Regions from separate parts of the Homo sapiens genome. Here region 1 is linked to region 2. The links come from fine-mapping of genetic effects on gene expression. Tissue or cell type: whole blood. Region 2 holds a variant in brackets; the other region holds the start of a gene. All regions are shown on one strand. Distances are between the middles of the regions.

The links. PIP is the estimated chance that this variant, and not a neighbour inherited with it, causes the effect.
Region 1: AKR7A3 starts here. The variant in region 2 is fine-mapped to the expression of AKR7A3 in whole blood (TOPMed, PIP 0.91).

What each region holds. Positions count from the first base shown.
Region 1 is chr1:19,285,824-19,290,823 of GRCh38, reverse strand. AKR7A3 (aldo-keto reductase family 7 member A3) reads left to right here and starts at 2,054. Exons shown (of 7, transcript NM_012067.3): 1 at 2,054-2,328; 2 at 4,452-4,639; 3 at 4,832-4,936. The coding sequence starts at 2,115. LOC124903867 (a long non-coding RNA gene) reads right to left here and starts at 2,764. Exons shown (of 3, transcript XR_007065521.1): 1 at 2,464-2,764. RefSeq lists enhancers at 1,177-1,998, 1,999-2,821.
Region 2 is chr1:19,210,731-19,215,730 of GRCh38, reverse strand. EMC1 (ER membrane protein complex subunit 1) reads left to right here. Exons shown (of 23, transcript NM_015047.3): 23 at 1-71. The region is part of intron 1 of EMC1-AS1 (EMC1 antisense RNA 1); the gene reads right to left. Among named protein-coding and RNA genes, the nearest start is that of EMC1-AS1, 2.8 kb to the right of the region's middle. RefSeq lists a silencer at 4,381-4,450. The variant C/T (reference allele first, on the strand shown) is at 2,776.

The sequences.
Region 1 (5,000 bases), 75 kb before region 2:
ATGATTGGAATCCTTTCAAATTTATTTATTTATTTATTTATTTATTTTTAATATGGAGTCTCACTCTGTTGCCCAAGCTAGAGTGCAATGGCCTGATCTCGGCTTACTGCACTCTCCACCAACCAGGTTTAAGTGATTCTCCTGCCTCAGCCTCCTGAGTAGCTGAGATTACAGGGGCACGCCACCACGCCTAGCTAATTTTTGTATTTTTAGTGGAGACGGGGTTTCACTGTGTTGGCCAGGCTGGTCTCAAACTCCTGACCTCAGTTAATCCACATGCCTTGGCCTCCCAAAGTGCTGGGATTACAGGCGTGAACCACCGCTCCCAGCCTCTTTTACATTTATTAAGACTTGTTTTATGCCTCCAAATATGGTATATCTTGGTGGATGGGCACTTGAAAAGAATGCATATCCTGCTGTTGTTGGATATTCTATTCATGTTGTTTATGTGGAATTGGTTCATAGCATTGAGTCTTGTATACCTTTACGGAGTTTCCGTAAATTATGACTGATAACTGTTCTACAACTATTGAGAATGGTGTGTTGAAATCTCCAATTATAATTTTGTATTTATCTACTTGTTCTTTAGTTCCATTATTGTTTTTCATGTATTTTGATGATCTATGCTTAGGTGCATATATATTTAGAATTATATCTTCTTTATTAATTGACCTCTTTGTCATTATGGTATGTCCCTCTTTGTCTTTGGTAGTTGTTGTTGTTGTTGCTGTTTTGAGACAGGGTCTCAATCTGCAGCTTCGACCTCCCAGGCGTAGATGATTCTCCCACCTCTGCCTCCCAAGTAACTGGGACCACAGGTGCATGCTACCACAATTTGATAATTTTTAAAATTTTGTTGTAGCGATAAGATCTCCCTGTGTTGCCCAGGCTAGTCTCAAACTCCTGGACTTAAGCAATCCTCCCTTCTCAGGCTCCCAAAGTGCTAACATTACAGGTGTGGGCTAGTATGTCACCCACTGTGTGGGCCAGTATTCTTTGTTTTGCAATCTACTTTGTCTGATATTCACTTAGCCATTCCAACTTCTTAAAATTTAGTTTTGTCAGTGTATGTCTTTTCCCATCTTTTTGCTCTTAAACTATCTCTGCTTTTATATTTGAATAGCTTTCTGGTATTTACCATATAGTTTGGTTTTGCTTTTTTATCCATTCTAACAATCACTGCCTTTTACTTGTGAGCATTTACATCATTTATATTTATGTAATTATTGATATGATTGGGTTTAAATCAATTTTGCTATTGGTTTTTCATTTGTTCCATCTGTCTATTGGTCTTTTTTTTTCTTTTGTATTTGGAGACAGATTTGCCCTCTGTCACCCAGGGTGGAGTGCAGTAGAGCTATCACAGCTCACTGCCGCTGGGCACTGGTCCATTTTTCTATCTTTTTTTTTTTCTTTTGAGACAGGGCCTCCCTATGTTGCCCAGGCTGGGTTCAAACTCCTGGGCTCAAGTGATCCTCCTGCCTTGATCTCTCAAAGTGTTGGCATTACAGGCGTTAAGTCACCAGAGCCAGTCAGTTTTTTTTCACTTAGGTACAGAATTCAATGCCAACAGTTCTTTTCTTTCAACACTTTAACCATGTCACTCCATGGGGACGCTGTCTTGAGCCTTTGGTAAGCCTCATTCTCCAGGACCACACGGCAGGCGCGACAGCCCTAGGTCCACCCCACCCCGTAAGCGCTCCCTCCGGGAGGAGACAGAAACCCAGGACAGCTCCGGGGCAAGGCCGAGGAAGGAGGGACGACGGGGCAGGGAGGCCCGAAGAGTCCCCGCCTTTTGGGATAGTCGCCACCCTTGGACCCCCTCACCCTTGGGGACGTTGAGGAGTGTTAAAATCTCCAAGACGCGAGTCACCGGTACGAAGCCACAGCCATTTCGCTGCTTGCTCGGTGCAAGTGCAGAAGGTCCTAGTAGCCGAGCGTGGAGTCGAGCTCGTGGGCGGCGTCGGGCACCTTCGGCCGCGCCCTCAGCTGCACCCGCCGGTGGGCGGGGCCCGAGCCCGTCTCTAAAGCCACGAGGCCGCCCGCTCCGAGCCTGGTGCTTCCGACCGCTGCGCGCGGCTCCTGGGCTGTCACAGTCTCCCGTTGCCGCCGTCATGTCCCGGCAGCTGTCGCGGGCCCGGCCAGCCACGGTGCTGGGCGCCATGGAGATGGGGCGCCGCATGGACGCGCCCACCAGCGCCGCAGTCACGCGCGCCTTCCTGGAGCGCGGCCACACCGAGATAGACACGGCCTTCGTGTACAGCGAGGGCCAGTCCGAGACCATCCTTGGCGGCCTGGGGCTCCGGCTGGGCGGCAGCGACTGCAGAGGTAACAGTGGCCCCTGATCCTCCCCCTGCACGGTGCAGAGCTGAGCCTGTCCACAGCCGTGTACCGCCCCGCTCTCCCTGGCCCCGGGGCAGCACCCAAAGTTTTGTCCCCCCCACCGCCCCCACCCCTGTTCACCTCGCAGCCTTGGGAACACCAGGCTCCTTAGGCACGTCTAGCTCCGGACAACTTTTCTCTCGTCTTCTCTTCTGTTCGTCTCTCTTCTCTTCCGGGAGGTAGCCAGCACCCTCACTGACGCCTGGATGACTTGGTCTTGCCTGGAATGACTTGGCTAGCCCCTCTCTGGAGCACAAAAAACACTGGGATCTGGCATTGTGCAGCTCCTGTCCCCACCTGTGCCCTCCAGGTGCCCTTGACGGGCCTGATCTGCAGAAATTCTGTTCTTACCGCCTGGCACTCCCTGGCACAGTCCAAAATCAGAGTTTGGACCCAGCACACTATCTGCTTCCTCCTTTGCACATGCCAGCCTGCTCGGGGCCCCGGACTTTGCTCTGAGTACCTTGTGGTACTCACAAGGGCACCTCACAAGGGTGGCAGTGCCCGGAAGCCTTGGCAGCTCCCTCAGGGGGATGAGGGATTGGGGTGGTACAGAGTCTCACTGCCCTCTCTGTGGGAGGCTCTGTCGGAGGCTATTGGAGAGAAATGGACACTAACCCACTCCAGGAAGCTCCAGTTCTAGAGATGGCTGGGGAGCCCAGAGTGACCCCTTCCTGGGAGGGACCCCGTGAAGAAAGAATGGATAGGAGTTTGCCAGGAAGAGTACAAGGGGCAAGGGCGTCAGGGCAGTGGGCATGGGTGTGGAAAGGCAAATGTGTTTTGGCAATGCCGCGGGTGCTGGAGGAGGCAGGTGTGGCCGGAGGGGAGGATGTGTGTATAGGGGCAGGAGGAGCCGCCCTCAGTCTGATGCCATTTGCAGTGCTTAGGCCGATGCCTGGCAGGCACATAGTGAGGGCTGGGAAATGTTAGCTGTTTGTTTGTTCTTAGTATTAGCACCATTTGCCTCCTTCCACTGAGTGTCTGAGTGGAGTCTTATTTCTCCTCTGATTCACCACATGGTAGATCCAGAACGAACCTGGCCTGTGCGTGCATCCCAGTGCCACGCTCTTTCTAGATCACCCGGCTGCCACTCAGTGAGAGCTCTAACCATATTTCTGATTTTTTTTTTTTTTTTGAGACAGGGTCTTGCTTTTTTGCCCAGGCTGGAGTGGAGTGGTGCGATAGGGCTCATTGCAGCTTTGACCTCTCAGGGCTCAAGCCATCCTCCCACCTCAGTCTCCTGAGTAGCTGGGACTACTACAGTAGCACCACACCCGGCTAATTTTTTGTATTATTCATTGAAACTGGAGTCTCACTTTGTTGCCCAGGCTGGTCTTAAACCCCTGAGCTCAAGTGATCCTCCTGCTCTGGCCTCCCAAAGTGCTGAGATTACAGGTGTGAGCCACCACAGATCTGTACCCTCTGCCTGGCCCTTATTTCTGATTTTTTTTTCTTTCCTTTTTTAATCCTTCTTTGTCTTCTGTCTGAGTCCAAGGTTGGCTGGCGAAAGTCCTCAGATCTGATCTGAAGTTAAATTCAATTGAGAAGCAGAGGGGTGGTGGTGGAATGGAAAAATTCCATATGAATAGTTCCTCAAACCTGCTCTTTGCTAGGCCTCAAGGGCTCCAGTGACTGCCCTCCTGCCAGCCTAGGTGACTTTCTAAGTGTGAAAAGTGGGAAGAGGACTCTCCACTCACCTGTTAGTCCAGTTCACTAGGAACTAAGATTCTTTTTTTTTGTTGTTTGTTTTGTTTGTTTGTTTGTTTTTTGAGAAGTCTCACTCTGTGAGACATTGTGCTGTGGCACAATCTCGGCTCACTGCAACCTCCGCCTCCCGGGTTCAAGCAATTCTCCTGCCTCAGACTCCGGACTAGCTGGGGACTACAGGCGGGCTCCACTATGCCCAGCTAATTTTTGTGTTTTTATTAGAGATGGGGTTTCACCATGTTGGTCCAGCTGGTCTTGAACTCCTGACCTTCTGATTTGCCTGCCTCAGTCTCCCAAAGTGCTGGGATTACAGGCATGAGCCACGGCGCCTGGCCCTGAATTTCATTTCTCTTTCCTCTCAGTGAAAATTGATACCAAGGCCATTCCACTGTTTGGGAACTCCCTGAAGCCTGACAGTCTCCGGTTCCAGCTGGAGACGTCACTGAAGCGGCTGCAGTGTCCCCGAGTGGACCTCTTCTACCTGCATATGCCAGACCACAGCACCCCGGTGGAAGAGACACTGCGTGCCTGCCACCAGCTGCACCAGGAGGTGAGGGGACCCCTGAGCTCTGGGAGGTGGTCCACTGCTGCTCTCCTTATCCTGATCCTAATGGTGAGAGCAGAGGCACCAGGGCTGTTCCAGGGTGGAGCAGGGAACAGCCCAACTCCCAGGGGCCCCACCCTGGCCTCCCTTTCCTGGTCTGGGCTGCACTATGTTCTGACTGGAGCCTCACCTGAGCAGGGCAAGTTCGTGGAGCTTGGCCTCTCCAACTATGCAGCCTGGGAAGTGGCCGAGATCTGTACCCTCTGCAAGAGCAACGGCTGGATCCTGCCCACTGTGTACCAGGTGAGAGCCAGGGCTGCAGAGGCCAAGGTCTCCAGAACTCCTGCTCATCCTGGGCTGTCTTTGC
Region 2 (5,000 bases):
AGTCTGGGCAACACAGTGAGACCCTGTCTCAAAAATAAATAAAATGAAAAAATTGCTTTTAAATCATGAAACCATTCTGTTTTCTTTACTTGGAATGTTTTCTTCCCTGCTTAAAATCTGGCTTGTCTCAAATCTGAACTCCTCCATAAAGTCTTCCCTATTGGTTTCAGCTACTCAGGACCTTCAACCATCCTGGCTGCTTACCACGTAACTTCCTGAGTGATATACCACACCCCTTTATTATTTCAGATATTGTGTCTCTTAGGGACTGTTTTCTGAATTACCTATTGTCCCAGACATGAAGTTGCTCCTTGACAAATAGTTCCCCAAATGGCTGTACCTTCTTCTCCAGAACCCTTAGGAACTTTGTCCTCAGTTTCCCAAATTTCTAAGACTTCGGTGACTTAGTAAAGGATTTTTTTCCTTTTTTTGAGACAGAGTCTCATTCTGTCTCCCAGGCTGGAGTGCAGTGCCTTGATCTCGACTCACTGCAGTTTCCACCTCCCGGGTTCAAGAAATCCTCCTGCCTCAGCCTTCCGAGTAGCTGGGACTCCAGGAGTGTGCTACCACACCCAACTAATTTTTGTATTTTTAGTAAAGACAGGGTTTCACCATGTTGGCCAGGCTGGTCTCGAACTCCTGACTTCAGGTGGTCTGCCTGTGTGGCCTCCCAGAGTGCTGAGATTATAGGCGTGAGCCACCGTGCCTGGCCCCAATAATTCTTTTTTTTTTTTTTTTTTTTTTTTGAGACAGAGTCTCACTCTGTTGCCCAGGCTGGAGTGCAGTGGCGCAATCTCGGCTCACCACAACCTCTGCCTCCCTGGTTCAAGCGATTCTCCTGCCTCAGCCTCCCGAGTAGCTGGGGCTCAGGCGTGCGCCACCATGCCCGGCTAATTTTTGTATATTTATGGAAATGCCAAGAGATAGTTCAATCTGCCTCTCTGGCAAGCCATGGACACCAGGTCTGACAAACTCTCTTACTCCTTAAGACAAATGCTCACCTGATCAATATGGGGAAATAAGCTGCATGGTACCATAATTTCTATTCTAAAAGGGAAAAGTATCTCTTTGGTATTGCTTTGGAAAACATTCTTTATAACTATCTTGCTATTTAAAAATTGACAATTATCCTTCCATAATTAAAACAGGTAGACAACATCCTGTGCTCTTTCATTTTTTTGTAAAATGTAACAAACTATTCAGCATTCTTGAAGCAACCTTTCAATAATGGAGATACTGGTGCTTCATATCAATCAGCTGTTTTGATTTTGTGGCTAAGTTCTTTATTTTAAAAAGACTATGTAAGTAAAAAAAATTTTTTAACAATATCCCCAAATTAAGGTGAGTGTTGCCTTCAAAACCTCCCCCACCATGTTTCCCAGAGGTCACCACTGAACAATTTGGTATCTCTCCAGGTAATACAATCTTCTGCAGCTTGGTTTTATCACTTAGTCTATCGTGGAGAGTGCCTATGTGAGAGGTAATGGATCTACACCATTCTTAGTGGTCACACGGTTGAAATTCTTAAGTGCTGTTCCATTAGAGATTTTTATGAGACTCAATACTCTTTCGGGAAAGTCTAATATTTAGGTCACCTTTCCAGTAAGAAATTTGTAACATAAAGGATGTGTACACACCCACCTTCCCATTTTTTTTTAGGAATCAGAGTGTGAAGTTAGTTGAGACTGACCTCCAACGAAGAAGCCTGTTTTCCACCAGCACTAAGGCTTTTATATATTTCTGATCCAAGAAGGTGACTTTTGCAGGATAGAGACTAAGAACATTTAGCAAAGTGTGTTTGTAAAATAGCCAAAGGTTTATATTGAAGCACCCTCTTCTCTGTCCCCTAATGTGCAATCTGAATGAATGGAAGTCAAGAAAGCAAACTAAAACTATAATTAAAAGGCACAATTACTCATACAAACTCCATTATACCTCATGGTTTGTTCACATCATGGCTTTGATGATATCATATATCCCATGTGCTGTGATAAAATAAGAACTAGACTAGATCAATCAACCAGAGGCCAGTTTATTGATGATAATGAATGAAGACTGCAATTGCAAAGAGGGCTAAAATACTCATGCTGCTGGAATATATATCCGCTCCTATAAAAAAGGTGATATAAGTTAAAATGCTATTATAAGTTTGCTTGGTTGTTACGGAGTTAGGAGATGTGATATCTTACTCATGCTTTTTACTATAGGCACATACCTTCCAAGGAGACCAGAACAGTCCCTCTCTGCACCCTGACCCCCCATGTCCCCACCCCAAACAGTGCTAAAGGGTACACACAGTGTAATCATTTGGCTCCACTTTTCCCAGAGTTTACATATAAACTACTTTCCTTCTGTTAAGTATCTGGCATACAGTAGGCTCTCTCTGTCATCATACTCTGTACCTAATTATAAAGCAAATGGATGATAAAGTATTTATAAATTTTTTCTTTTGACTTTTGACAACACAATTTCAGACTTACAGAAAAGTTGCAATAGTACAAATAATTCCCAGATCCCCTCTACCCAGATCCCCCAAAGGTTAACATTTTACCACATTTGATTTATCCTTCTCCTTCTGTCTGTCTCTCTCTCTGGCTCTCAATCTGATAGGTCAAAACTTTTGAGAGTGTAAATCTTAAAGTGACATTGTATTCTAGTCCCTCCACAGCTAGCAAAATTGTTTTTTTCGCTCTTAAAGCAAGAAGGCTGCAATAAGCATTTTCTTCTTTTAAGTTCATGCCAGGTGAATTGTTCAGTATCATGGGAAAAATAATA[C/T]TTGTGGGTTACAAATAATGTCTCATAATTCTAAATTGAATTAGGCTTCTAATCTAATTCCTTATATTCTTGGTAATTTGAAAACTAAGTCTGTTGTGAATTACCAAAAAGGAGCTGCTCTCCATTTGAAGTTTTCAGTATTGCAGTAGGAGTTTCAACAAAATATGCACTGATTACTTGTTCTTGTAACTTTGTAAAAGCTTGAGAACAGATTGACCTCTGTTGGCTCCTACGGGGTAACAGCTAAGGTTTATTCATTTACTTGTTTCTAGAAACACTGTATCTATTAGGATTTATTCCAAGCAACTCTGTATTAGATGGCTTAAAAGAAAAAAGAGATGTGCTATCTACCACTTTTGAAGCTCTGTAGTGAGGCACACTGACCTCATTTGTTTTTAGATTGCTGTACAATTTACAACCACCAAAGTGTGCAAATCATAAGTACAAATCATGGCTTAGTGACTACTGTGTGTGTATATCCATGTAAGCATAACTGTGTCAAGGTATAGAACTTTTCCAGCTCCCAGCAGGCCTCCTCATCACTACCTCTACACAAATCTTTAAACCATACCATTCATCAATGTCTGCCATTTTTACTTCATTGAATTCCCTGTAACATGACTGTATCATGTCTTTTATCATTTTAAATTTCAGTTCCTTGGCAGACACTTGGGATTAGAATGGAACAAGTATTTTAAGTCCTTCAGTTAATTCATAAAAGTTATTTATTGTTTTTTAGTTTCTATCTTATTTCCTGGACCAGAATATTAGAAGCTTGTGTTTCATCTAGAAGTCTTTTATTAGTCTCTTTTGTCATCTAAATTTATAACATAGATGCCATTCCAAATCTTTGTGGCAACACAAGACCAAACCTCCAGTACTGAAATAAATGTGGCATTTATAAAGGAAGTTCTTTATCTGGAGTGCTCTCTCCCAATCTATTAACCAGAAATATAAAGTATATAATAAATAATTTAGGTAAAGGTGAAAATCTCCCTGTGATAGTTTGCATTTGCCTTTTATTCTCCTGGAGAGGGAAGGGAGGACAGCAGATACATTTGATCTTTTATTTCCTGAAATTTCTCCAAGACAGCTTTTGCAGATTAATTTTGTCCTCTGGTTAAAATAAAATTCATGTCCCAAAGCCATTATAAAATTCTGGGTCTCCAGCCTTTCCTTAGGGCTCTGGTTCAGTATCTTGAAATACTGCAATATTTATAGTGTTATGGAAAGTTCTTTTTCATTTCTGATGTTTTTATGTTTAAGAAACTTGCTGTTATTATTATCCTCTGGTAAGTAGGCACTGAAGGAAAATCCCTACTGCTGTCATCAAAGCCACATTTTCCTCCAAGACCGGCTTTGACTTGACTGAATTTTATTTCGAATGTAAAGATGCAGGCTGGGCGCAGTGGGTCAAGCCTGTAATCCCAGCACTTTGGGAGTCCAAGGTGGGAGGAACCTAGGACTTCGAAAACAGCTTGGGCTACGTAGGGAGACCTGTCTCTTAAAAACAAACAAAAAAAATTAAGAGTGGTGGCCTGCACCTGTATAGTCTCAGCTACTGGGGAGGCTGAGGCTGGAAGATCACTTGAGCCAGGGAGGTGGAGGCTGCAGCCAGCTGCAACTCTGCCACTGCACTCCAGCCTGGGCTATTGGGCGACAGAGCAAGATCCTGTCTCAAAAAAGGTAAAGTAGGTCATATCTTAATAAAAGTGCAGATTAATCACTAGGTACCAATTCATTTATCAGTGTTACACACCAAGAACAAAAGCTCTTCCTAAACTTAGGGGGAGAATTTCAGGGCTTTAGGAATTTGAAACCGTCTTCACAGTTCCTTCCCAGTCTTATTTAGGCCAGCTGTAGGCCACAGGCTAGAGCTTGAAGCCGTCCACCAATATCTCACTCACAGGACTGTCCTTAATGCACGAATACCTTTCCTCGAGCAAACTGCTTTTCCCTCTTAGACCTTGTAGCCAGATCATTTTACCGGCAAAAGTCTCAGACATCTCCTGTGAATAAAAGCTTACATTCTTTCCTTGCCAGTAGAAAAAAGGGGAACACGTAAGCATACGTGGCAAATTGCAAAGAGGGATGCATTGTACGAGCTGGTCAGATTGTTAATGAGGGCAATCCAAACAGAAGAGATTTGAGTGCTAAGGGAATACGGATCAGTGATTAAAAGGTGTTGTGAGAGGGAGAAATCTTTGTAAACTATGGCGCTCTTT